Regions from separate parts of the Homo sapiens genome. Here region 1 is linked to region 2. Evidence: fine-mapped expression QTL. A gene starts in region 2. The other region holds a variant in brackets. All regions are shown on one strand. Distances are from middle to middle. Region 1 holds the start of LOC124904623 (a long non-coding RNA gene). Region 2 holds the start of SH2D3A (SH2 domain containing 3A).

Region 1 (11,440 bases), 18 kb after region 2:
TCTACAAAAACTGAAAAATAAAAAACTTTTAAAAAATGTAAAAGTTGAGGCTGTGTACTTTCTAAGAATTGTGGCCAGGAATGAGACCCCAGGTGGAGAATGCCTGGCACACAGTAGGTCTTCAATAAGTGCTACCCATTCTCAGAAGCTGCAGTGCATTCAGAAGGGATGAAACTTGGGTGTCCTGGCCAGGTGCGGTGGCTCACGCCATAATCCCAGCACTTTAGGAGGCCGAGGCAGATGGATCACTTGAGGTCAGGAGTTCAAGACCAGCCTGGCCAACATGGCAAAACCCTGTCTCTACAAAAAATACAAAAATTAGCTGGGCATGATGGTGTGTGCCTGTAATCCCAGCTACTTGGGAGGCTGAGGCAGAATTGCTTGAACTCGGGAGATGGAGTCTGCAGTGAGCTGAGATCACGTACGCCACTGCACTCCAGCCTGGGCAACTGGGTGAGACTGTCTCAAAAAGAAAAAAAAAAGAAACTTGGTATCCTTCTCCCTACCTGAGTCACAAGCAGACACCCACTGACAATGACATAGGCCAACTTCCAGAAAGGGGCAGGGTTGACCCAAGGTGTGCCCAAGATCACCTCCCCTTCCTCATTCCCTGTGTGGCCTGTAAGAAACGTGGTGTTAGATACTTCCAGTCCCAGTATTTAAATCCTCTAATAAGACACCGACTCTAGGAACTTTATATAATTTCTTTTTTTTTTTTCCCATTTTTGTATAAAACAAAATGGCCGGAGCCGAGCGGCAGAAAGAAAAGATGTAAAACATGAGTATGTACATCAATGGTGGAACGATGGTAGAAGGCACAGCGGGTCCGTCCGGTGTGACAGGTAGGACTGGGTTGGGGGTGGAGGGGGCAGCAGGTTACACAGGTCTCAGCCGAAGCCACGGGGTCAGAAATAAAGTGCATAGGTCCTGGGGCTCCCCGTGGCCCAGAAGCAGCAGCCGACAGCCCCCCTCTTCCCGTCTCTGGCAGGGTTCAATTGAGCGTGACTCGGAGGTAGGAGGTGGGCACGTAGCCCTCGCCTCCCTCTTTCCGCCTGACCCGGGTCCAGCCGTCCCCTTTGTCTTCTTCCATAAGACTGAGGTCTTCACCCTCGGCCATAGAGATAGTGCCCTCGCTGGACCCTGTGATGGGGGTGGGGGTGGGCCCAGATCTGCTTTAGGCAAAATTTATTATTTTTATTTTTTATTTTTGAGACAGAGCCTCGCTCTCGCCCAGGCTGGAGTGCAGTGGCACGGATCTTGGCTCCCTGCAACCTCTGCCTCCAGGTTCAAGGGATTCTCCTGCCTCAGCCTCCCGAGTAGCTGGGATCACAGGCGTGCGCCACCACACCTGGCTAATTTTTGTACTTTCAGTAGAGATGGGGTTTCACCGTGTTCGCCAGGCTGGTATGGAATTCTTGACCTCAAGTGATCTGCCTGCCTCAGCTTCCCAAAGTGCTGGGATTACAAGCCTGAGCCACCCGCCCAGCCCTGCTTTAGGCGAATTTAAACTGAACCTAGCCAGAGACACTGCCTCCCATACCCCGCCAAGCCCACTCTGGCCGTTCTCACCTTCAAAGTGGTAGATGGCCACACAGTGACCTATGGGGGATGTGGGTTCCTCCTCGAAATCCTCATCAAACTCCGTGTAAATGGGGGTGTCCTGGCTCTCTTCTGAGGGAGGCTCTTCAGAGCTGTTTGGGGATAATTCGGCAGATAAAGACAGGCCCTCCTGGGACCCTGGGAACAGACCCACTCTGACGTCACCCCTCACCTCTCCTTGGTGTCCTGTGATGCGCTGTTGCTGCTGCTGTCTGGCGGGGCGCTAGCGGGGGGGTCGGGAGGCCGGGCGTGCCGGCTCAGGCTGTCTCCCCGGTTGCTAAGGACTCGACTTTCAGCTTCTGCCAGCCACGCCTGGGAGGAGGGGACAGGAAAATCGTTCCAGGGCAGAGCTCCGGGGTCAGCCCACTTTGGACCCAGAGGTTCCCTGAGATCACCCACGCACAGCCAAGGCTGTGATGGAAAACAGCTGGAGACCCCCCGCTCCGAACACCTCCCCTGTCCCCGACCCCCCACCCCACCCAGCAGTGACTCAGCCAGGCCCGCTGGCTCCCGCCCCTCCCCAGGGTCTTTCCTGACCTCATACTTCTGCACTTCCAATTTCAGCCGTTCAATGTTGCTCAGGGTTTCAGCGATCTGGGGCTCCAAGCTGGCGGGGTCCCCCATCTGAGGTGTCTTCTCATAGACATCCTTCATTTTCTTTAGGGCTTCCCTATGACAAGGGAGACAGGATAGACAGGAAAACATACTTCCGTGTGAGTTTTTTTGTTGCTGTTGTTTTGTTTTGTTTGAGTCAGGGTCTCATTCTGACTCTTTCCCCAGGCTGGTGTGCAGTGGTGCAATCATGGCTCACTGCAACCTTAACCTCCCGGGCTCAAGTGATACTCCTGCCTCAGCCTCCTGAGTAACTGGGACTATAGACCCGCATCACCACACTCGCCTGATTTTTCAAAAATTTTTAGTAGAGATGGGGTCTGGCTATGTTGCCCAGGCTGAGTTCAAGGGATCCTCCTGGCTCAGCCTCCCAAAGTGCTGGGATTACAGGCATGAGCCACAGCACCGGGCTCCATGTGATTTAACAAGCAAAAAACAGGGGTTTTGCATCAAGGAGCAAATAGCAAGGCAGGACAATGGTTAAGGATGCAAATACTAGTGCCCGACTGCCTGGGTTCGAATCTCAGTTTGAATATTTCCTAGCTGTGTGAGCTTGGCTTAAATCATTGAACCCCCACTGCTGTTTGCTTATTTTGGAAATGGAGATAATGATCCTAATATCTCATGTGGGTCACTGTGAGGATTAATACAATGCCTGATACCTAGTAAGTCCTCACTATTACTCATATACATATTGAGTACCTACTGCATACAGGTCCTATTCCAAGCATCAGAAATATAACACTGGGCTGGCCGTGGTGGCTCACATCTGTAATCCCAGCATTATTTTGGGAGGCTGAGGTGGAAGGATCACTTGAGGCCAGGAGTTCAAGACCAGCCTGGGCAATGGTGTGAGACTTTGTCTCTAGTAAAAAATCAAAATAATTTTTAAAAAATAAAAAAAGAAGGGGGGGCAGGGGAAAAAATAAATAAAGATAAATATAACACTAAACAAGACAGATCTTAAGTCTGCATACAATCTCTCAGGAAACCTTGAAAATTCGAATAAATCCATGTACACTGTTTCGAATAGTGCCTAGAATGCAGTAAGTGACTAATAAATACTGTTATCATTATCATCAGTTTCTCATCCCTGTCTCCCCTATGTCTATATATACAGGTAGTCACGACTATAATGGACCTTTGGAAAAGACCAGATCTGAGCTCAACTTCCTTCCAGTTATTTTTTATCTTTTTTTGAGACACAGTCTCACTCTGTCGCCCAGGCTGGAATGCAGTGGCGCAATCTCGGCTCACAGCAACCTGTGCCTCCCGGGATCAAGTGATTCTCGTGCCTCAGCCTCTGGAGTAGCTGGGACTACAGGCACACGCCACCACGCCTGGCTAATTTTTATATTTTTAGTAGAGACAGGATTTCCATATGTTGGCCAAGCTGGTCTCAAACTCGGTCTCAAGCCATCTGCCTGCCTCGGCCTCCCAAAGTGCTTGGATTACAGGCATAAACCACTGCACCCTGCCAACTTCATTCCAGTTCTAATACCTGATCCACTTTACAGATGAAGAAACTGAGGAATTAAAAGGTAAAACAGGCTGCCCAAGTCCTGAGATGAAGCTGGAAATCAAGTCCAGTTTGTCGTGACTCTAGAACATGCACCCTTAACCCCTCCACCGTAGAAACTCAGGAACTAGAGAGTTCTGAATGGAACTTTACACCAATAAAAGCCATTCTGTCCAAGAGGTTACATGCAAATGGCAAAATATAATTTGGCTGCCTGTTTGCAAGTGGCAAACATCATTCCTATTATGTAACAGAACTGGGAAGAGGATTTTGTTGCCTGGAAAGAGTGAGTAAAGATTTTTTTTTTAATCTGCCAGATTTTTTTATTGTCAATATTTTAAGTGTTTGAGCTATTAAATAGATAACCATATGCTGCTTTTCTTTTAGCCAATTAATGTGGTGAACTAGATGGATACATTTTTTGATATTGAACTATCTTTGCATTATTGGGATAAAACCCAACCAATGGTGGATTTTTTTTTTTTTAGTTTTTAAAAAAATTTACTTGGGTTTTTCTTCTTCTTCTTCTAAGAGATGGGGTTTTACTACGTTGCCCAGGCTGGCCTTGAACTCCTAGGCTCAAGTGAGTGATCCTTCTACCCAGCCTCCCAAAGTGCTGGGCTTATAGGCATGAGCCACTGTGCTCGGCTAATGTATTATTATTATTATTATTATTATTTGAGGTAGAGACTCGCTGTGTTACCCAGGCTGGAGTGCAGTGGTGCAGTCTTGACTCACTGCAACCTCCGCCTCCCAGGTTCAAGCGATTCTCCCACCTCAGCCTCCCGAGTAGCTGGAATTACAGGCGCGTGCCACAATGCCCAGCTAGTTTTTGTATTTTTAGTAGAGACGGGGTTTCACCATGTTGGTCAGGCTGGTCTCGAACTCCTGACCTCACGTGATCTGCCCTCCTTGGCCTCCCAAAGTGATGTATTATTTTTTAAACACTGGATTTGCTTGGCTAGGATTTTGCCTCTATGATCATAAATAAGGTAAAATGAGCCCTTAATTTTATCTTATTGAATTCTTGGCCACAGATTTGGGAATCAGGATTCTTCAGCCTAAAGAGGTTGACAGCTTTCACACTTTTTCTGTTTGCTGGAATGACTTGTATAAGACAAGAAGTAACTGTTTCTTTTTTTCTTTTTGAGACAGGGTCTCACTCTGACACCCAGGCTGAAGTGCAAGTGGTGCAGTCACAGCTCACTGTAGTCTCCATTTCCCAGGCTTAAGCCATCCTCCCACCTCAGCCTCCCAAGTGGCTGGGACTACAGACACAAACCACCACACCCAGCTAATTTTTTTATTTTTGCTAGAAATGGGGTCTCACTCTGTTGCCCAGGCAGGTCTCAAACTCCTAGGCTCAGATGATCCTCCTGCCTCAACCTCCCAAAATGCTGGGATTGCAGGCACAGGCCACTGCACCTGGCCAAGAAGTAACTAAGTGTGGTAGGAATCACCTGTAAAACCGTCGGGGCCTTGGGATTATTGGGGAGATCTTTGAGTACCATTTAAATGTCATTCATTTACAGACCCGGGCAGTGGCTCATGCCTATAATCCCAGCACTATGGGAGGCTGAGGCAGGCAGATCAACTGAGGCCAGGAGTTCAAGACAGCCTGGCTAATATGGGGAAACCCCGCCTCTACTAAAAATATAAAAATTAGCTGGTGCATGCCTGTGGTCCTAGCTAATCGGCAGGCTGAGGCACAAGAATTGCTTGAACCTGGGATGTGGCGATTGCAGTGAGCTAAGATCACAGCACTGCACTCCAGCCTGGACGACAGACTAAGACCCTGTCACAAAATAAAATATAATAAAATAAATAAAATAAAATAATAAACAAATAAGTGAAGTTCATTTACTATTTTATCATGTTCCTTGCCTGTCCTTCCCTACCCCACCACCTTACCTCTGGTCAACCTCCTTCTGAAGTTCACGACTGCGTTCTTCCAACTGCTGTTGAAGCCGTTTTCGCTGCTGCTCTGGGGGCAAGTGGCTAAAATCCTCGGTCACCACTGTCTGCAAGGTGGGTAGAGGGCTGAATTTGGGATCAAGGAGTCTAGCCTGCCAGACTCTGCACCCGTCTGAGATATTTCACTCCCTTCCCCAGCCATGGTTCTTGACAGCGAAGCCATGCACAGAGCAAAGCAGGTCTGGGTTGGGCAACCAGGGAAGAGGGGCCCAGCCAGCGGCAGGAAGCGAGCCCAGGGTCCCGCCACCCGCCGCTGGGCAGGCTAGGGCCACCACCTCCTCCTGCCCCGAGGCCTCACTTACCCCACGGCTGCCTCGAAGGCTGCGGAAGGATGCTAGCCTCGGTTTGACCGACTTACTGATCTCGCTCAGTATGGCCAAGGGGTCACGGCCGGAGCGGGGGGACGGGGGTCCGTTAGGCAATGCCGAGGGTACGGGGCCCCCCAGGGGGGAGAGGGGTGGGGGGCGAGGCTACCGGCGGGGGCCGGGGAGGGGGATAGGTTGAAGGGGTGGGGGGGCATAGGAGGATGTAGAGAGTGAGGACGAATGGACGGAGGGATGGACGCACGGATGGACGGATGGACGCAAAAAAAGGAAAAAGGAAAAACAAAATGGAGAAAGAAAAAAAACGGTAAGAAAACCACAACTCAAGATGCACAACCACACAGAGAAAACGCATGCAGGAGCGACACAAAAAAATCTGGAAGGTGGCGGGGAGGATGTTGAACTGTAAGCCCGAAAGCCAGAACTCTCACTCCCCCGGTATCTCCTAGGTCTCTGGAATGTTATGTCCGGGAGCAAGCATGGGTCCAGGAGGCAGGGAGGCCCATGTCTCTCTGTCCACTTAGCTTTCTGGGCTGACAGTCTAGAAGACGCATGCAGGAATCAAGGTCTCAGACAGGTAAGAGGCCACAGAGGACAAAAATAAATAAACAAAAATAAAACCACAAGCCGAGAGGGAGTGGAAGGCAGGAAAATGAGAGGGGTTAGGGGCATCAGAAGTTTAAGCTCGGGGATCACAGGTGTTAAGTCAAGGAGAGGTATGAGAGTGTAAGTGAAGAGGGACCCAAAGTATAAATCAAAGGTATAAACCAAGGGTGCTAAGGTATATTAAAATCCAAAAACCCAAGAAAGCAAGACATGCAGGGCGGCTCCCAGAGTCCCATCAGCAGGATGGAGAGAGAAACTCGGGGAGTCCCCAGGGATGGTGTCACCAGCCCTCAGGCCAGCCCTGAATTCCACCAGCAGGTTTTCTCCCAGCATCCCGAGAAGCAGCAGACAAACGCCACGGACCTCCCCACCTCCCCACCCTGCCCCCGCCTTCGCCTCGGGGGACTCCCAGGCCAATCGGCCGCCTTCCTTCCCTCCAGTCCGGGCTGGCAGCCAAGAGGAAAATTCCTGCCCG[A/G]GACTCGGCGTTCAGGCGGCTGGGGCTGACTCAATAGGGGCCCCACTGTCCCCACTTCACTGTCCTTCTCCCCCACCATCCCAAGGGTCCCGGCCCCCACCTTGTTCTTCTTGCCAAAAGGCCAGCGCTTGGTGCGGCTGCGACCCGGGCCTCGGAGTTCAGGCCGTCCATCCGAGGGGGTGCCCAGACTGCTGTCGGAGGGTGCACGGTTCATGGGCTGGCTGAAGTCCTCGAATTCCACGTCGCCCGGGCGGGCAAAACCTGACTTGTGCAGCTCTATAAGGACGTGGGAGTCCTGGGGGAGGGGGACAGTGGATGAGCAGTCGAGTGCCTAGCCTATGGGTACCTCCCTCTGCCCTTCCCGTAGCCCAGTGGACCCAGACCAGGCACCCACGTTCTTGGGATCCACAGCATTTGCAGCCACCTTCATGCCCTCCAAGCACTTGGCTATTATGGGCACCACCTCCAGCTCGGCCTCCGACAGGAGCCCATACCCGGCACCCAGGCGGGTGGCCCTGCGTTCATCCATGTCTTGGAGCTTCTGTAAGGACAGGGACAAGGGTGGCTCAGGGGTGCTAACAGAGGGACTAGAAGCACAGTGATTCACTCTGCAAATATGATCGCGCTCCACGCTGGCCCCAGCCCCAAGCCAGTCTGGAGGGGAAGACAGAGTCGGGAAGAGAGACTCCAGCCCACTGTGGTTGGGGAAGAGACACAGGGCCAGGGGGATCTCAGAGGGGGACGCGTGCCTAGGGGGTCAGCAAAGGCTTCTCAAAGGAGGAGACAAGGGAACAGGGATTTGAAGAAAAAGCAGAACCAGCCCTGATACTCCCAGGGCCACGGATGGGACAGAGAGTGGAGCGCTAGATTGAAACAGGAGAGGGGAAATTCGAGACCTTTCAGAGGGGTTGTTAGAGGTGGAGCTTAGAAGAATAAGTAGGAATTTCAAAAAGAAAGAAAGGTCACTTGAGCACAGGGGTTCCAGGCTGCAGTGAGCTGTGATTATGCCACTGCACTCCTGCCCGGGTGACAGAGCCAGGCCCCATCTCTCTATAGAAGTAAATAAACAAACAAGTAAAAGGCATGCCCAGCAGGAAGAACAGCTGACTAAAAGCACAGCTCACTGTTACTATAGGTTTCTGATTCCCTTTCAATCTAGGGACTGGGACATTGCAGCTGGGGTTTTGATGAATGCGTAGGAGTTGGCTAACATTTGGAGGCTTTCGGGAAGGTAGGTCTGAGAACTGGGAGCACTCACATCGAATATCTGGGGCATCTGTGAAAAATAGAAGTGGGCTTGGTCTCGGTTGAAGCGCTGCAGTTGAGCCGCATATTCGTTTTTGCTTTCTTCGGCCATGTGACTCCGAAGGTGGGCTTGCTGCTTGGCCTGAAGAATGCAGAGGTGGAAGGTACTGCCAGGTTCCGATCACGTCCCACTCGGACTCCCCAAGCTTGTCCCAGACCCCGCACCCCCCCCCCGCCCCCGCCACACACACCTTCTCCACATCAGCCTTGGTGGCGTTGATATCCTGGTCTAGCCGTTCAGCAGTCTGGGCTGCCTTCTCTGCCTCCCGGCAGTCCCGCTCAAATTTACGCTTACTCTGTGTAGGGGACAGAACCGGAGTGAGGGAGCCACCATCCCAAAGACAGCAGGGTGGGAAACCAAGGTTTCAGGGATTATTGGGATGTCATCCAGTAAGTAGGGGTCAAGGGAGTACTGGAAGCCTATGGGGGAGGGAAGGTCCAGGTCTGACAAAGAGGGCAGCTCCCTGACTCCGGATCCGCAACCCTGCCCCCATGCCTCCGGGCCACAGTCACTGCTACCTCTGCAAACTCACATTCTCCAGCTGTTTAAAGCCATTTTCCAGCTGCTGCTGGGCCCGCCGCCCTTCTTGGAAGTGCTACAGAAAGAAGAGTGATAAGGCTCGCCAGGGTTCCAGCAGAAGCCCTTTGTAAAACCTGAATCGGGGGGCTCCTCACCATCTTCCTCTCCTGTTTCATCTCTTGTGAGTACTTGGTCAGCTCAAGACATACACGGACACTGAGGTTCTCAGCCACCAGCTCCCGCTGGCCTGCAAAGTCATTCACCTCCTGGAGAATCTGTACGAAGGACTGTTGCTGGCTGAATCTGGGGTTGGATGAGAATCGGGGAACAGGGAGTCAGGCCCCTCCTCCCGAGCAGGCTGATGCCCCAGGACGCACCTCCAGGTGGAAAAGGGTTAAGCCCCAAGAATGTAATCCCTGAAGCGATGACAAATTCTGGTCCATATTCCTTAACCCCAACCCTTGAGTAGATTTTTTTTTTTTTTTTTTTTGAGACAGGGTCTTGCTGTCACCCAGGCTGCAGTGCAGCGGCATGATTGCGTCTCACTGCAGCCTCAAACTCCTGGGCTCAAGTGATCCTCCCACCTCAGGCTCCCAAATAGCTGGGACCACAGGCACACGCCACCACACCTGGCTAATTTTTTTTTTCCAGATGAGGTCTCAAACTCCAATCCCCCCGAACTCCGCATCTTCCCGCCTCACCCTCCCAAAGTGCTGGGAGTACAGGTGTGAGCCACCGCACTGGACCTCGAATGTATATTGGAACACAGAATTTTCCAGTTTTTAAAGATGGTGTACAAAGCTTATACCATCTTTTCTGCATCATCTTAGTGGGGTTGGGGACATCATTTTGTAATCAAACACCGTATCTATTTGTTTTGGAGACAGAGTCTCACTCTGTCGCCCAGGCTGGAGTGCAGTGGTGCGATCTTGGCTCACTGCAACCTCCGCCTCCCGGGTTCAAGCGATTCTCATGCCTCAGCCTCCTGAGTAGCTGGGATTACAGGCGCGCACCACAACGCCTGGCTAATTTTTGTATTTTTAGAAGAGACAAGGTTTCACCATGTTGACCAGGCTGCTCTCGAACTCCTGACCTCAAGTGATCCACCTGCGCACCCTCCCAATGTGTGGGATTACAGGTGTGAGCCACTGTGCCCAACCCTATTTTTTTTTTTAATTTTACAATGAGAGGTGTTAACATTCACACTAAGTGGGATAAAAGTCAAAACTACAATTACCAGCCTGGCTAACATGGTGAAACCCTGTCTCTACTAAAAATATAAAAATTAGCTGGGCATGGTGGCAGGTGACTGTAATCCCAGCTACTAGGGAGGCTGAGGCAGGAGAATCGCTTGAACCTGGGAGGCGGAAGTTGCAGTGAGCTGAGATGGCGCCACTGCACTCCAGCCTGGGGGACAGAGTGAAACTCTGTCAAAAACAAAACAAAACAACTACAATTAACAAAAAGTTCAGGTCAGAGATTGCTGCCAAACAAGTGACCAAAACAACTTGATTTCCAGGGCTTTTTTGGATTTTGGAATTGGGGACTCAATTCCAAGTCAAATGCTCCTTACGGCGTTTGATATGGACTGCACACTGTTTAAACACATTCACTCAGCTCGTGTTCATGAAAGCCCTACAAAGCTGGAGGAATCGTCATCATTCCATTTCACAGATGAGGAAAACAGAGGCGCAAAACTTTAAGTCATCTGCCCAAAGTTACTGGTTTTGTAACTGCTGGGGCCTCTGTATTTAACAGTTAAGGAAAATAGTGGCAGAAAACCTGAGTCACAAGCCCAAGTCAATTTCTCTACATAGTAGTGGACTCAGGATTCCAAGCCAGATAATCCCGCATCTTGCATCCATGCTCTCACCTCTAGAAGGGGAAGTGAGAGGAGCGGTGGGGTGTCCCAGCTGAGGGAGGGGAAGTGAGACCCAAGCACCGCCTTTCCCCACAAATCTAGCCCTGCAGCCCCTCTCCAACCTTACTTGGACTCAGGATCATCCTTGGCAGGTCTCTTGGGCAGATATTTTTTCACCAGGCTCCTAAGGGGAGACAGAGGTAGGAGGGCTGAGCCCGCAGCCCTCCCACCGCTCCCCGTCGCCCCAGGCGCGTCCTCCGTAGCGTCCACCCCAGGGTCTCACCGCAGTTGTTTGGCGTAAGCCTGTTCCACTTCGGTGCGTTCTTTCACGAACTTTACATATCTGTCCAACAGGTCCAGCCCCCACTGCGTGTGGCGCTCGAGCACCTCGAACTGATCCTGACATGGGACATGGTGGGGGAGGAGGGGAGAGGGGCCGGGGTCACGATTTTGGGACCCCACAGCCCGCCGACCAGACTCCCAGGGAGGGCCAAGGCTCTGCGCTCCTAGAAGGAGTGGCTTCCCGGCGCCGCCCCGGCGTGGCGCGGGGGGAGGCAGGAAACTGGCGGGAACCCCCTCCCCTTCCCGGGAAGGGCCGGAGAACAGCGCCCAGGCCCCAGCCACCCCGGCCGGGAGATGGAGGTCT
Region 2 (14,752 bases):
ACTCCCTCTCTCCCCCTCTTCACTGTGCTCCAGCCACACGGGCCTCTTCGCTCTTCCTCCAACATGCCAGGAACATACGGCCCTGCCCCAGGGCCTTTGCACGGGCTGTGTCCTCCACCTTAAGCAACTTCATGGCTAGCTCCCTCACCCCTACATGTCTTTGCTCAAATGCTACCTTCTCATGAGGTCTTCCTAAATCCCCTCATTTCAAATCACAGCCTTTTCCGCATTCCATTAGCTCTACCCACCTCCCTAGGTTAAGCCCTGATCTTTGTCCAACAAATCTGATTTTTTAAGTTATTTTTTTCCTTCCTTCCTTTCTCTCCCTCTTTCCCTCCCTTCCTTTCTTCCTTCCTTCCTTCCTTCCTTCCTTCCTTCCTTTCTTTCTTTCCTTTCTTTCTCTCTTTGTTTCTTTCTTCTTTTTTTTTTTTTGAGACGGAGTCTCACTCTGTCACCCAGGCTGGAGTGCGGTGGCGCAATCTCAGTTCACTGCAAGCTCCGCTTCCCGGGTTCACGCCATTCTCCTGCCTCAGCCTCCTGAGTAGCTGGGACTACAGGCGTCCGCCACCGCGTCTGGCTAATTTTTTGTATTTTTAGTAGAGACAGGGTTTCATCGTGGTCTCGATCTCCCGATCTCATGATCCGCCCGCCTCAGCCTCCCAAAGTGCTGGGATTACAGGCGTGAGCCACCGCGCCAGGCTTCTTTCTTCTTTTTTTTTCTTTTGAGACGGAGTTTCACTCTCGTTGCCCAGGCTAGAGTGCAGTGGTGTGATCAGCTCACCACAACCTCTGCCTCCTGGGTTCAAGCGATTCTCCTGTCTCAGCTTCCCAAGTAGCTGAGATTACGGGCATGCATCACCACGCCCAGCTAATTTTGTATTTTTAGTAGAGACAGGGTTTCTCCATGTTGGTCAGGCTGGTCTCGAACTCCTGACCTCAGGTGATCCACCTGCCTCAGCCTCCCAAAGTGCTGGGATTACAGGCGTGAGCCACCGCGCCCGGCTTTTTTTTTTTTTTTTTTTTTTTTTTTTTGACAGGGTCTCATTCTGTCACCCAGGCTGGAGTGCAGTGGCATGATCTCAGCTCACTGCAAGCTCTGCCTCCCAGGTTTTCCCTGACCTCAGCCTCCCAGGCAGCTGGGATTACTGGCACCTGCCACCATGCCCAGGTAATTTTTGTATTTTCACAGAGACAGGGTTTCAGCATGTTGGCCAGGCTGGTCTCAAACTCCTGACCTCAAGTGATCTGCCCGCCTTGGTCTTCCAAAGTGCTGGGATTACAGGCTTGAGTCACTGTGCCCAGGCTCTTTCTTCTGTCATCCAGGCTGGAGTTCAGTGGCATGATCATAGCTCACTGCAGCCTCAAACTCCTGGGCTCAAGTGATCCTCCCGCCTCAGCCTCCCAAGTAGCTGGAACTACAGGCTTGTGCCACTGTGCCTGGCTAATTTTAAATTTTTTTGCAGAGAGGGGCTTTTACTATGTTGCCCAGGCTGGTCTTGAACTCCTGGCCTCAAGCAATCCTCCCACCTCGGCTTCCCAAAGTACTGGGATTACAGACGTGGGCCATGGCACCCGCTCATCATTGTTTCTTTATTGTCTGTTCAAGAATTTATGTTTCTTTGGTTCACTACTGACCCCTCTCTTATGCAGCACCTGACACATAGGCATGCCCCTTAAATACCTGTTGAATGAATAAATAATTGAAAGCTCTATTGACTGCACCTGACATTTATCCCAAATCCATCCCTTTATCACCATGTCCATGGTCACCACCCAAATCCAAGCCACCATCATCCCTCTCCTTATAGACTACAATAGTGTCTTTTTTTTTTTTTTTTTTTGTCTTGCTCTATGGACCAGGCTGGAGTGTAGTGGCGCAATCTCGGCTCATTGCAACCTCTGCCTCCCAGATTCAAGTGATTCTCCTGCCTCAGCCTCCCGAGTAGCTGGGATTATAGGTGTCACCATGCGTGGCTAAATTTTTGTATTTTCAGTAGAGACAGGGTTTCGCCATGTGGCCCAGGCTGGTCTCAAACTCCTGGCCTCAAGTGATCCACCTGCCTCAGCCTCCCAAAGTGCTGGGATTACAGGCACGAGCCACTGTGCCAGGCCCAATAGTGTCTTTCATTAACTCATTCAACAAACATTTACTGGCTTCCCGGCCATTACCTTATCATTAGCTGAAATCATCTTCATGAGATTAGGTCTCTCTGCCCCCATCCCTAGCTTCCACCCCAGTAGAGTGTAAGCAGGCCCTCCCCCGTCCACCTAATACGTGGCCCTCATCATGGAGTTTCTTTTTAAATTATCGTTATTATTATTCTTAGGAGAAAGTTTCACTCTGGTTGCCCAGGCTAGAGTGCAATGGTGCAATCTCTGCCCACAGCAACCTCTGCCTCCCAGGTTCAAGTGATTCTCCTTCCTCAGCCTCCCTAGTAGCCGGGATTACAGGTGCATGCCACCACACACAGCTAATCTGCTCACAGCAACCTCCGCCTCCCAGGTTCAAGTGATTCTCCTTCCTCAGCCTCCCCAGTAGCTGGGATTACAGGTGCATTCCACCACACCCAGCTAATTTTGTATTTAGTGGAGACAGGGTTTCACCATGTTGGTCAGGCTGGTCTGGAACTCCTGACCTCAGGTGATCTGCCCACCTCGGCCTCCCAAAGTGCTGGGCCCTCTTTTTAAATTATTATAACCACGAGGAGGCGCTAGACCCCTTCCCTGAACATGCCCCTACCCTCTGACTGTACCAATACCAGACCGGTGAGGGATAAGGAAGAAACTTTCTTCCCCTCTTGAGCCTGGAGTCTCTTCCATATTTGCCAGGGCCAGTCGGGGGAGCCCAGTCTGGAAATTCCCTGCTTTGCAACCTACAGGCATCAAAACTTTTCATCCCCAAGCATCGTTGGCCCTCTAGGCCTCAATTTCCTCATCTGTAAAATGGTGGGTGAGTAACTTTCACCGCAAAGCAGCATCGTGGAGAAAGTGGGCATGCGAAGATTGAAAAGGAGGCAGACAGGATAAAGCTCCAGAGCTCCGGGTTTGAATTTCGCCTCTACCACTTACAAGCCAGGTTAACTTGGGCAAATGGTTTAGTTGCCCTGTGCCTCAGTTTCTCCATCTGGAAAATGGAAGTGATGAAAATACTACCTACCACCCTTACAGGGTGGTCTGTTTGAAAATTAAAATAGAGGCCTCATGCCTGTAACCCCAGCACTTTGGGAGGCCGAGGCAGGTGGATCACATGAGGTCAGGAGTTTGAGACCAGTCTGGCCGAGACCCCATCTCTACTAAAAATACAAAAATTAGCCTGTAATCCCAGCTACTCGGGAGTCTACAGCCGGAGAATCGCTTGAACCGGGGAGGTGGAGGTTGCAGTGAGCTGAGACTGCTGCCACTGCACTCCAGTCTGGGCAACGAGAGTGAAACTCCATCTCAAAAAATAAAATAAAATAAAATAAAGGCAAGTTGACAGAACAGCCCTTGTGTACAGTAAGTGCTCAATAAATGTTAGCTGCTGCTACTGCTTTTAAGACTGTGGTTACTGGGGCCAAGCACAGTGGTTCATGCTTGCTTGTAATCTCAGCGCTCTGGGAGGCCAAGGCAGGAAGTTCGCATGAGCCCAGGAGTTCCAGAGCCTGGGCAGCATAGTAAGACGCCACATCTACAAAAAATAAAATAAAATCAGCTGGGTGTGGTGGTGTGCACCTTTAGTCTCAGCTGCTTGGAAGGCTGAAGCGGGAGGATAGCTTAAGCCCAGGAGGTTGAGGCTACAGTGAGCTATGATCACCACTGCACTCCGGCCTGGGCAATATAGCAAGACCCTGTCTCTACAAGACAAGACTGATGTTAATATGAGGAACTCATCAATAAACGTGGCCAAAGAGTCCTCTCTCTTGCACTAGGTCCCTGTCACCTTTTCTCTTGTTCGTCTCCAGGCATCACGATGGAAGTCCCCCCCACCCTTCTTCCCACCTGGGAAACCACCTGAATGATTTGCCTTCCACCTCCACCAAAGTCCCGCCCCGCTCCAGCGTGCTGTCACTGAAGGAAGCTGTCGCGTTTTCCCGGACGTCTCTCCACAAAACCCGCCACCTAAATGGGGCTTCTTTCCGGAAAATCCGGGAGGGCGGTCTGGAGGAAGCGTACCCCTCCTTACGTCACAGCTGCCGCAGCTACCCCAGCCTGGCGTAAGAGCCCGAGGGAGTTGCCCTGCCCTGACCCGGAGCCTTGGCGGGGAGGGGAGAGAGGCACCCCACTCCACCCCGCCCTGGTCCCAAAGGGCCATGGGTGCTTGGGGCCGCCTGGGTGGAAGGGAGGGGCAGGGTTCTAAGGGGCGGGAACGTTGGGATGAAATTTCTTCTATTGCCCTAAGGGGCGGGGCTGAGAAGGAGGTGGCTGCGGGTGGGCGTAGTCATTCGGCGGTGGTCGTGGCTATATACAAGGGGAGGGGCCACTGGCAGGAAAGGATGCGTGGTGCTCCCCTAGTGGGCGGGGTCTATGGAGAAAGCGGTGCGATGCAGAAGGAGGCGTGGCTAGTAGCAAAAAAAATGGTTTTAAGGGGGCGGAGCAAGGGCCTGGGAAGTTAGTTTGAGGCGGGGCCCGCAGGGGGCGGGGTCTGCAGGAGGTGTGGTCAGGTAACTGGGCTGAGTTCCCACTAGGTGTGGTCTGGGAAGGCTGGGGCGGTGGCAAGGTGGAGGGCGGGGGTGACAGCAGCCCGGAGCCGCGGAGCCTCAGCTTCCGCCTGGACCCAGCCTCGTGGGAGCCCCGCGGGTCCTGCCCAGGTGAGTGGAGCCCCAGGGCAGATCCAGAACCAGGATTATTGGGATGGGGAGTCCTCTCTTTCCAGGTGGGGTCACCGGCTCGCAGGGAGGATCTGGGGTAGAAGAGGTCGCCTCGCGAATGAGAGGGTCGCTGTGCGTTACGCGTGTCGGTGTGCTCGGGCTCACCTGGGCGTGCCTCTCTAAGTGTATTTCCTGTGCAGCACAGAAAGCCATTGTTTCCATTTTTGCCTGAGTGATCCTCTTAAACGGCGAATCAGATCGGGCCCCTCCTTCACTTAAAACCCTTGGGTCATAGAGATTAAAATTCAAAGTCCACTAGTTTTTGCCTAGTCTCTCCTCCTGATCTCTCCAACCTCATTGCCCTCCTATCTACTCCTTCCTCATCGTATTCCGGCTACACCAGCCGCCTTGATGATGTAAAATGTAAAAAGCAAGTCCATCTCAGCTCCAGGCCTTTACCCTTACTGTACCCCTCACCCAGGCGACTCCTCCAAATCTTTGCCTAACTGCCTCCTTCTGTACTGAGGTCTCAGTTCCAATGTCACTTTATAGGAGAGGCTGTCCTGTCCAGCCTCCTCTATCACATCTCCCTGGCTTATCACTTTCATTGATAACTCTTAGAAATGGTCTGTCTTCTCCATTCATCTTGTGCTCGTTTGCAGTCTGTCTTGCGCAGCCGACTGCAAGCTCTGGAGGGCAGGGTGGTGCCGAGCTTTAATCTCCTTAGTCACTGTATCTCTAGGTCCTAGAACAGAGCCTGGTGCACAGCAAGTGCTCCAGCAATGGTCGTCCAACGTCAAAAGCGAGTCCTGCCTACATCTGTGTTTGTGTTGCCTGTGCTGGTGGTTCCCACCCTCCACGTCCTCCCCACACGTGGACACATGTTTATGATCCAACTGGAACATGAATAATCCCCTCTCTCCTCTCTCTATGCTTGGTCTGATTCCTGATTCTGCCCGTTTCTTCTCTTCCGTGCCCGAATAAATGATCCCAAAGGACTCAGAGGCAGGAGATGGCTTAGTTGGCCTTTGGCTGACCTATGGCCACCCTGTGTCCTCAAACTAACCAGAACCTTGCCATTGACTCAACTTCACTCTCACTAAGGGAGACACAAGACAGGAACTTGGGGTTGGGAAACTCTGCGACCGAGGCTAGCCCTGGTCCAGGTGACAAACAGGAAGTGCGCAGGCATTGCAAAGACACACCTGGCTTCAGGTATGCGGCACTGGCAGCTGGCTCCCTGCCCAGCGCTCCTCCCCTAAAGCCACCTAGGGCTGGTCTGGGAACTTCCTGCTGACTCAGGAGGCAGGAATTTCTCTGCAGACCCCACCAGAAGACTTTGCAGGGCTGCAGGGAGAGCTTGCAGGAGAGTAAGAAGCAGATTATCTTCTTCTGGACCATCCAGAGAAATCTCCCCCACCAGACACCTGAGACACACTGGCCCTGAGGCCTGTGAGATTATCGGGAAACTACCAAAATGTCTGAGATCCAAATTCAATCATCATGATAACCACATGTATGGGCTCCGAAATAGAAGGATCTGCAAAGGCAACATTGCTGTTTGCTGACATTGCTACAAAATGTGACCTTTTAAAAATCTTAACCCTGGGGTTACATTCTTTTTTTTTTTTTTTTTTTTGAGACGGAGTCTTGCTCTGTCACCCAGGCTGGAGTGCAGTGGTGTGATCTCGGTTCACTGCAGGGTCTGCCTCCTGGATTCAAGCGATTCTCTCTCCTCAGCCTCCTGAGTAGCTGGGACTACAGGCACACGCCACCATGCCTGGCTAATTTTTGTATTTTTAGTAGAGACGGGGTTTCACTGTGTTGACCAGGCTGGTCTCAAACTCCTGACCTCAGATGATCCACCCACCTCTGCCTCCCAAAGTGCTAGGATTACAAGAGTGAGCCACCGCGCCTGGCCCCCAGCGTTGCATTCTAAAGCAAAGAATAGGGGTTAGATCTGCACCTATCCTGAGAACCTCTGAGTGTGCGCATAGGTTGCCGAGAAGCCATGGATGTTTGTAAGTTAAATTCCCCCTGACTGGGATGTTTTTTCACCCAGAGTCACCTGGCACACTCCCCAGAATTCCTTCCAGACTTTACTCAATGAGACCTTTCCTGGTCACATGATCAAAAATGTTCACCCAGCCTGGGCAACGTGGCAAGACCCAATCTCTACATATATATTTAAAAATTAGCCAGGCACAGCCAGACGCAGTGGCTCATGCTGGTAATCCCAGTGCTTTGGGAGGCTGAGGAGGGTGGATCACCTGAGGTCAGGAGTTCGAGACCAGCCTGGCCAACATGGAGAAACCCCATCTCTATTAAAAATATTTTAAAAATTAGCCAGGCATGGTGGCACACACCTGTAGTCCCAGCTACTGAGGAGGCCGATGCACGAGAATTGCTTGAAACCAGCAGGCGGAAGTTGCAATGAACTGAGATCATGCCACTGCACTCCAGCCTGGGCAACAGAGTGAGACTTGATCTCAAAAAAAAAAAAAAAAAAAAAAATTAGCCAGGTACAGTGGCCCACGCTCATAGTCCCAGCTACTCAGAAGGATGAGGTGGGAGAATCACTTGAGCCCAGGAGGTCAAGGCCGCAATGAGCTGTGATTGCACCACTGCAGTCCAGCCTGGGCAATAAAGCAAGACTCTGTCTCAAAAAAAAAAGAGTGTTCACCCTAGCACCTGTACTTTCATTATATCCCATCCATGGTTTAGTTTTTTTGTCTAGCACTCACTCATGTATGCCATCATCTAGTTCTTTTCTGAGGTGCTGCTCCCCAGTAGAATGTCAGCTCCCAAGGACAGAGATTTCCATCTGTTTTGTTCAATGCTATGTCTCTAGGGCCTAGAACAGAGCCTGGGACCCCATAAGGTGCTGAATAAATAGGGGTTCAGTGAATTCATTAATTACATTTCTGCAAGATGGGGTGGCATGTTGTCATCTTCAGCCATTTTTTTTTTCTTCGATTGCATTATATTTGGAACAGGCACGATGGTGACATCTGTAATCCCAACTACTTGGGAGGCTGAGGCTAGAGGATTCCTTGAGCCCAGGAATTCAAGGCTAAAGTGTGCTATGATCACACCTGTGAATAGCACTGCACTCCAGCCTGGGCAACACATAAGACCTCTCTCTTTAAATGTAAAAAAAAAAGTCTGCGTGCAGTGGCTTATGCCTGTAATCCCAGCACTTTGGGAGGCTGAGGCAGGTGGATCACCTGAGGTCAGGAGTTCAAGACCAGCCTGGCGAACACAGTGAAACCCTGTCTCTACTACAAATATAAAAAAAGAAAAAACATTAGCTGGGTGTGGTGGTGCATGCCTGTAATCCCAGCTACTTGGGAGGCTGAGGCAGGAGAATCGCTTGAATCTGGGAGGCAGAGGTTGCAGTGAGCCAAGATCGCACCATTGCACTCCAGCCTGGGTGATAGAATGAGACTCTGTCTCAAAAAAAAAAAAAAAAAAAAAAAAAGATTTGATGGAGCTGTCTCCAAAATTAAGAAGAGGATGAAAGGAGCTGACCCAGACACTCAAGCAGGGCTAATTATTCCCCTTTTACAGATGTGGAAGACTGAGGCCTGTTGAAAGTGCAGAGCTCAGCCCTGGCACCCTCTGTTCCCAAGAGCTCCATGCAGGTGCCACAGGATGGAGAAGACCTTGCTGGCCAACCTTGGTACCACGGCCTCCTGTCCCGCCAGGTACCACCCACAGCAGGACCTCAGCACCATCTGGTGGGGAGCCTCTCCCACCCTTGCTGAGGATTCCTGGGTCCCTGGATGAGGGACTTAGTGCCAAGGTCTATTGGGACAGGTGGCAGAGGGCTGGGGACTGTCTTGAAGGTTGGCTGGCTGGGGACTGTCACTATATTTAAATTATCACTTTCTTTGGGATGATGAGATTGGTGATGGAGCTTAAGGAGAGTCCTAATGCCCCCAAACTACTCTTGGCTCTGGCCGTCTCTCCCTCTGAACTCCATCTACCTCCTGGTATTTCCCTCTAAATGTGAGGCTCCCAAGCCAGGCATGGTGGCTCACGCCTGTAATCCCAACAGTTTGAAAGGCCGAGGTGGGCGGATCACTTGAAGTCAGGAGTTCAAGACCAGCCTGGCCAACATTGTGAAACCCCATCTCTAATAAAAATACAAAAATTAGCCAGACATGGTGGTATGCGCCTGTAGTCTCAGCTACTTGGGAGGCTGAGGCAGGAGAATCTCTTGAACCCAGGAGGCAGAGGTTGTAGTGAGCCACAATTGTGCCACTGCACTCCAGACTGGGTAACAGAGCGAGACTCTGTCAAAAACATAAATAAATAAACAAACAAATAAATCTGAGGCTCCCACCTCCATCTGAAACTCAGTTGTCACCCCCAAAAATTCTGGGACCCTGAGCATCTCATGAAATCATGAGAGGCAGTAGAACTTAATAGTTAAAATCCCATAATTGAGACCCAGACACCCTAGGTTCAAATCCAAACCCTACAATTTATATTGTATGTGACCTTGGGCAGGACATTTGACCTCTCTGGGCCTCAGTCTCCCGATCTTTAACATAGGGATAGCAGGCCAGGCATGTTGGCTCATGCCTGTAATCCCAGCACTTTGGGAGGCTGAGGCAGGAGGATCACTTGAGGTCAGGAGTTCCAAACCAGTCTGGGCAACATAGCAGAACTCTGTCTCTACACAAAAAAAAAAAAAAAAGCGAAAATTATCCAGGCATGGGTGGCATGTACCTGTTGTCCCAACTACTCAGGAGGCTGAGATGGGAGGATTGCTTAAGCCCAGGAGGTCAAGGCTGTGAGTGAGCCATGAGTGCTCCACTGCACTCAGCCTGGGCAATCGAGAGAGACCTTGACTCAAAAAAAAAAAAAAAAAAAAAAGGCCGGAAGAAAAAAATGGGCCGGGCATGGTGACTCATGCCTGTAATCCTAGCACTTTGGGAGGCCGAGGTGGGTAGATCACCTGAAGTCAGGAGTTCGAGACCAGCCTGACCTATATGATGAAACCCCCTCTCTACTAAAAATACAAAAAAGTAGCCAGGCATGGTGGCATGCACCTGTAATCCCAGCTACTCGGGAGGCTGAGACAGCAGAATCGCTTGAACCCAGGAGGCAGAGGTTGCAGTGAGCCGAGATTGTGCCATTGCACTCCAGCCTGAGCAACAAGAGTGAAACTCCGTCCCAAAGAACAACAACAAAAAAAGGTATAATAATACCTACCACCCTTGTTACAGGAATTACAAGAGTTAACACCCTTTACATTTAAAGCAGTGCTTGACATATAGTAAGGGCTACACACGTGTGTCTGCTACATCTATTATTTAGTCCCCAGACCCCATGTTCAGCTCTACTTTGCCTCTCTCTGGGGTCCTGGCCCTTCTACCTGCCTCCCCAAGCCTTTTTTTTGTTTTTTTTTTTGTTTTTTTTTTGTTTTTGAGACATGATCTCACTCTGTCACCCATGCTGGAGTGCAATGGCTCCATCTCGGCTCACTGCAACCTCTGCCTCCTGGGTTCAAGCGATTCTCCCACCTCAGCCTCCTGAGTAGCTGGAATGACAGGTGCACACCACCACGCTCAGCTAATTTTTATATTTTTTGGTAGAGACAGGGTTTTGCCATGTTGCCCAGGCTGGTCTCAAACTCCTGATCTCAAGTGATCTGCCTACCTCAGCCTCCCAAAGTGCTGGGATTACAGGTGTGAGCCACTGTGCCCCACCCTTCCTACCCTATTTTGACACCAGCCACCACAGCTGGCATAAGACTGCTTGCAAATGTTTATAAAAGAGGGGGCCCCAATCTGGAAGCATCCAGCTAATGGCTTCTCTTGAAGCCACATTTGCATAACAAGCACAGTGCATTTACCAAATTAGATGTTGCATTGGTCAGCATCAGCTAGTGGCTGTAACAAACATTCCCAAGATATCACCAGCTAAACACAGTCAACATGTTAATGTCATAGTCCAAGGTGGTTGAGAAGCAGAGATGCAAAGCTCCATAAATCAGTTGGGAGCCAAGTGCATCTTGTAGCTCTGTCATCCCTCTGGGCTTTGGGGGATATCAGCTGACAGACAGGGGACACAACCTATAAGATTGTGCAGCAGGGTTTTATGCGCCAGGTCTGGATATTTCCCATAGCCCTTCTACCCCACATCCCATTGGCCAGTTCTCATCACATGACAACCCTAGCCGCAAGGGAACCTGGGAAATGTAGTCTACGTAGGTGCCAGGAGAAAGGGGGACAGAACTTGGTGTGAAAGTTCCCCGTCTTTGCCTGCCACAGAAGTTTCACTGGGGTAGCTTTTCTTGGGTGGTGGGGGCAATGGTGGGGGGAGCTACCATTAACCACTGCCCTGGACTCATTCCTAATTCCCCTGCCCCCTGAACTTCATCCACAGAAGGCTGAAGCTCTTCTTCAGCAAAATGGCGACTTCCTGGTTCGCGCCTCTGGGTCCCGTGGGGGCAACCCCGTGATCTCCTGCCGCTGGCGGGGCTCAGCCCTCCATTTTGAGGTGTTCCGTGTGGCCCTGCGTCCCCGGCCAGGCCGACCCACAGCCCTCTTTCAACTGGAGGATGAGCAATTCCCCAGCATACCGGCTCTGGTTCACAGTTATATGACAGGCAGGCGCCCACTGTCCCAGGCCACAGGGGCTGTGGTCTCCAGGCCTGTGACTTGGCAGGGGCCTCTGCGACGCAGCTTTAGCGAGGACACCCTGATGGATGGCCCAGCTCGGATAGAGCCTCTCAGGTACTCACAGTCTCCCTGCCTCCTTGAGAACACCCAACACTCGCAGGGTTTTCCAACTCAATGGTTGACTTTTTTTTTTTTTGACTGAGTCTCACTCTGTTGCCCAGGCTGGAGTGCAGTGGCATGATTTCAGCTCACTGCAACCTCCACCTCTCAGGTTCAAGCGATTCTCCTGCCTCAGCCTCCAGAGTAGCTGGGATTACAGGAGTGCACCACCACGCCCAGCTAATTTTTTTACTTTTTTATTTTTTATTTTTCTCTGGAGTCGAAGTCTCACTCTGTTGCCCAGGCTGGAGTGCAATGGCACGATCTCAGCCCACTGCAACCTCCGCCTCCCGGGTTCAAGCAATTCTCCTGTCTCAGCTTCCCGAGTAGCTGGGATTACAGGCGTGCACCACCATGCCTGGCTAATTTTTTGTATTTTTAGTAGAGACGGGGTTTCACCATGTTGGCCAGGCTGGTCTCAAACTCCTGACCTCAAGTGATCCACCCGCCTCGGCCTCCCAAAGTGCTGGGATTACAGGCATGAGCCACCACGCCTGGCTAATTTTTTGTATTTTTAGTAGAGACAGGGTTTCACCATGTTGGCCTGGCTGGTCTTGAACTTTTGACCTCACGTGACCGCCCGCCTCAGCCTCCCATAGTGCTGGGATTACAGGTGTGAGCCACCGCACCCGGCCTTGGTTGACTTTTGAGGCCCGAACATTCTTAGTTGTGGGGGAGGAGGTGGAGATGTCCTGTGCATCATAGGGTGCTGAGCAGCATTCCTGAGCTCCATCCAACTAGATGCTACTAGTTGTGACAACTAAAGATGTCTCCACACGTTGCTAAGAGTCCCCTGGACGTAGGTCACCTTGATTGGTTGAGACTCACTGGTACAGAGTAACTGGACACAGGGTTTTGCAGATATTGGTGGGGGACACTGCTTAGGTGGGGACTACAGGTTTCTCCCACTTCTGTCCCCCAGGGCAAGGAAGTGGAGCAACAGTCAGCCTGCAGATTTGGCACATATGGGGCGGTCAAGAGAAGACCCCGCTGGGATGGGTAAGTGTCTGCTAGAATGGCCTGTGGCTCAGGGATTGGCTCTGCCACTCACCACCTAAGAGATCTTGGTCAGGTGCAGGCACCTCTTCGAGCCTCAATTTCTTGCTTTAGAAAATGATGACAATCACGATGACTTAAAACATGCAGGGACTTTGTGGGTGCTTAAAATGTGTGTTTACAAGGCTGAGCGCGGTGGCTCATGCCTGTAATCCCAGCACTTTGGGAGGCCGAGGCCGGTGGATCACTTGAGGTCAGGAATTCGAGACCAGCCTTGCCAACATGGTGAAACCCCATCTCCACTAAAAACACAAAATTAGCCGAGCGTGGTGGCACGCACCTGTAATCCCAGCTACTCTGGAGGCTGCGGCAGGAGAATCGCTTGAACCTGGGAGGTGGAGGTTGCAGTGAGCCGAGATGGCGCTACCGCACTCCAGACTGGGTGACAGAACAAAACTCCATCTCAAAAAAAAAAAAAAGTGTTTACAATTATTCCAAGGAGCTGTACCTGTTCTGACCACAGCTTACCTTGCTAACAACTTCTGCTACGTACCCTCCTCATGCTGGTCACACAGCCCTCCTTGCAGTTGTTCGAACCCTCAGGCTTTTATTCCCGCCTCGGGGCCTTTGCATTTTACATTTCCACCAGTGACGGGAACATTCTCATTCCCCTAATTTTTTCCTGAGTGGCTCCTCTCCATCCAGGGTAAGTTCCTCAAAGCAGTTGAGTCTGACGGTCTTACCTAAAGGAGGACTCACCTGAATGCCCCCTCATGCCCCTTTTTTCCCATCCTTCTCCCAACCCCATTCAACATGAGCCGTCCCTGCATCCCAGGCCCTGCACGGAGTGCTAGGATACATCAACAAACCAGAAAGAGACAAAGATCCCTGCCCGATGGGAGCCAACAGTCCACGAGAGGACAACAAACCATGAACCACAAAAATAAGGCAATTTTGTTTGCTTCAAGATGAAAATTAAAACACAGGAAGGGAAGGCCAGGCACAGTGGCTCAGGCCTGTAATCCCAGCACTTTGGAAGGCCAAGGCGGGCGGATCACCTAAAGTCAGGAGTTCGAGACCAGCCTGGCCAACATGGCGAAACCCCGTCTCTACTAAAACTACAAAAATTAGCCGGGCGTGGTGGTACACACCTGTAATCCCAGCTACTCGGGAGACTCGGGAGGCTGAGGCACGAGAATTGCTTGAACCCGGGAGGCAGAGGTTGCCGTGAGCCAAGATTGCACCACTGCACTCCAGCCTGGACAACAGAGTGAGACTCTGTCTCAAAAAACAAACAAACAAACAAAAAACAGTAAGGGAAGGGTGAGGTGGCTCAGGTCTGTAATCCTAGCACTTTGGGAGGCCAAGGTGGGCGGATCACTTGAGGTCAGGAGTTCGAGACCAGCCTGGCCAACATGGTGAAAACCCATCTCTACTAAAAAAAAATAAAATAAAATAAAATACAAAAATTAGCCAGGTGTAGTGGCATATGCCTGTAATCCAAGCTACTTGGGACAGAGTGAGACTGTCTCAAAAAAACCGAAAAAACAAAAACAAAACAAAACAAAAAAAACAGAGTAAGGGAGATAGAGACTATAAAGATGGAGATGTATATTGCAATTTTATTTTATTTCTATTTATTTATTTATTTTTGAGATAGAGTTTTGCTCTTGTTGCCCAGGATGGAGTGCAATGGCGTGATACCGGCTCACTGCAACCTCCACCTCCTGGGTTCAAGTGATTCTCCTGCCTCAGCCTCCCGAGTAGCTGGGATTACAGGCATGTGCACCACGCCCTGCTAATTTTGTATTTTTAGTGGAGATGGGGTTTCCCCATGTTGGTCAGGCTGGTCTCGAACTCCTGACCTCAGGTGATCCACCCACCTCAACCTCCCAAAGTGCTGGGATTACAGGCGTGAGCCATTGTACCCAAGCAAGCAATTTTAAGTGGTAGTCAGGAAAGGCCCCATTGCAGAAAAAAATAAAATTGAAGGAAATGAGGGAGGGAACAGGTGGATAACTGGGGGATAAGCAGGCAGGAGGAAGAGGCAGTGCAAAGGCTCTTGGGTCAGAACAAGAATTTAAGCTGTTCATTCAACCAAAAAATGAGTGGGTAGCTGGGTGTGGTGTTGCACGCCTGTGGTCCTAGCCACTTGGGAGGTTGAAGCAGGAGGAC

Evidence for each region. PIP is the estimated chance that this variant, and not a neighbour inherited with it, causes the effect.
Region 1: its variant is fine-mapped to the expression of SH2D3A in left ventricle (GTEx, PIP above 0.99). The same link has a PIP of 0.9 or more in fibroblasts.

Annotation. Positions count from the first base shown.
Region 1 is chr19:6,740,763-6,752,202 of GRCh38, reverse strand. It overlaps TRIP10 (thyroid hormone receptor interactor 10), which reads right to left. Exons shown (of 15, transcript NM_001288962.2): 2 at 11,078-11,193; 3 at 10,922-10,978; 4 at 9,089-9,236; 5 at 8,947-9,009; 6 at 8,605-8,709; 7 at 8,367-8,495; 8 at 7,503-7,649; 9 at 7,209-7,403; 10 at 6,007-6,174; 11 at 5,642-5,751; 12 at 2,137-2,269; 13 at 1,772-1,911; 14 at 1,570-1,691; 15 at 673-1,140. The coding sequence ends at 992. It overlaps LOC124904623 (a long non-coding RNA gene), which reads left to right and starts at 3,616. Exons shown (of 2, transcript XR_007067109.1): 1 at 3,616-3,752; 2 at 3,847-4,039. SH2D3A (SH2 domain containing 3A) reads left to right here. Exons shown (of 10, transcript NM_005490.3): 10 at 1-43. RefSeq lists enhancers at 5,960-6,460, 8,512-9,431. The variant A/G (reference allele first, on the strand shown) is at 7,109.
Region 2 is chr19:6,757,422-6,772,173 of GRCh38, reverse strand. SH2D3A (SH2 domain containing 3A) reads left to right here and starts at 4,739. Exons shown (of 10, transcript NM_005490.3): 1 at 4,739-4,787; 2 at 8,358-8,494; 3 at 11,187-11,536; 4 at 12,504-12,580. The coding sequence starts at 8,426. RefSeq lists a silencer at 4,201-4,260 and enhancers at 6,349-7,249, 10,844-11,344.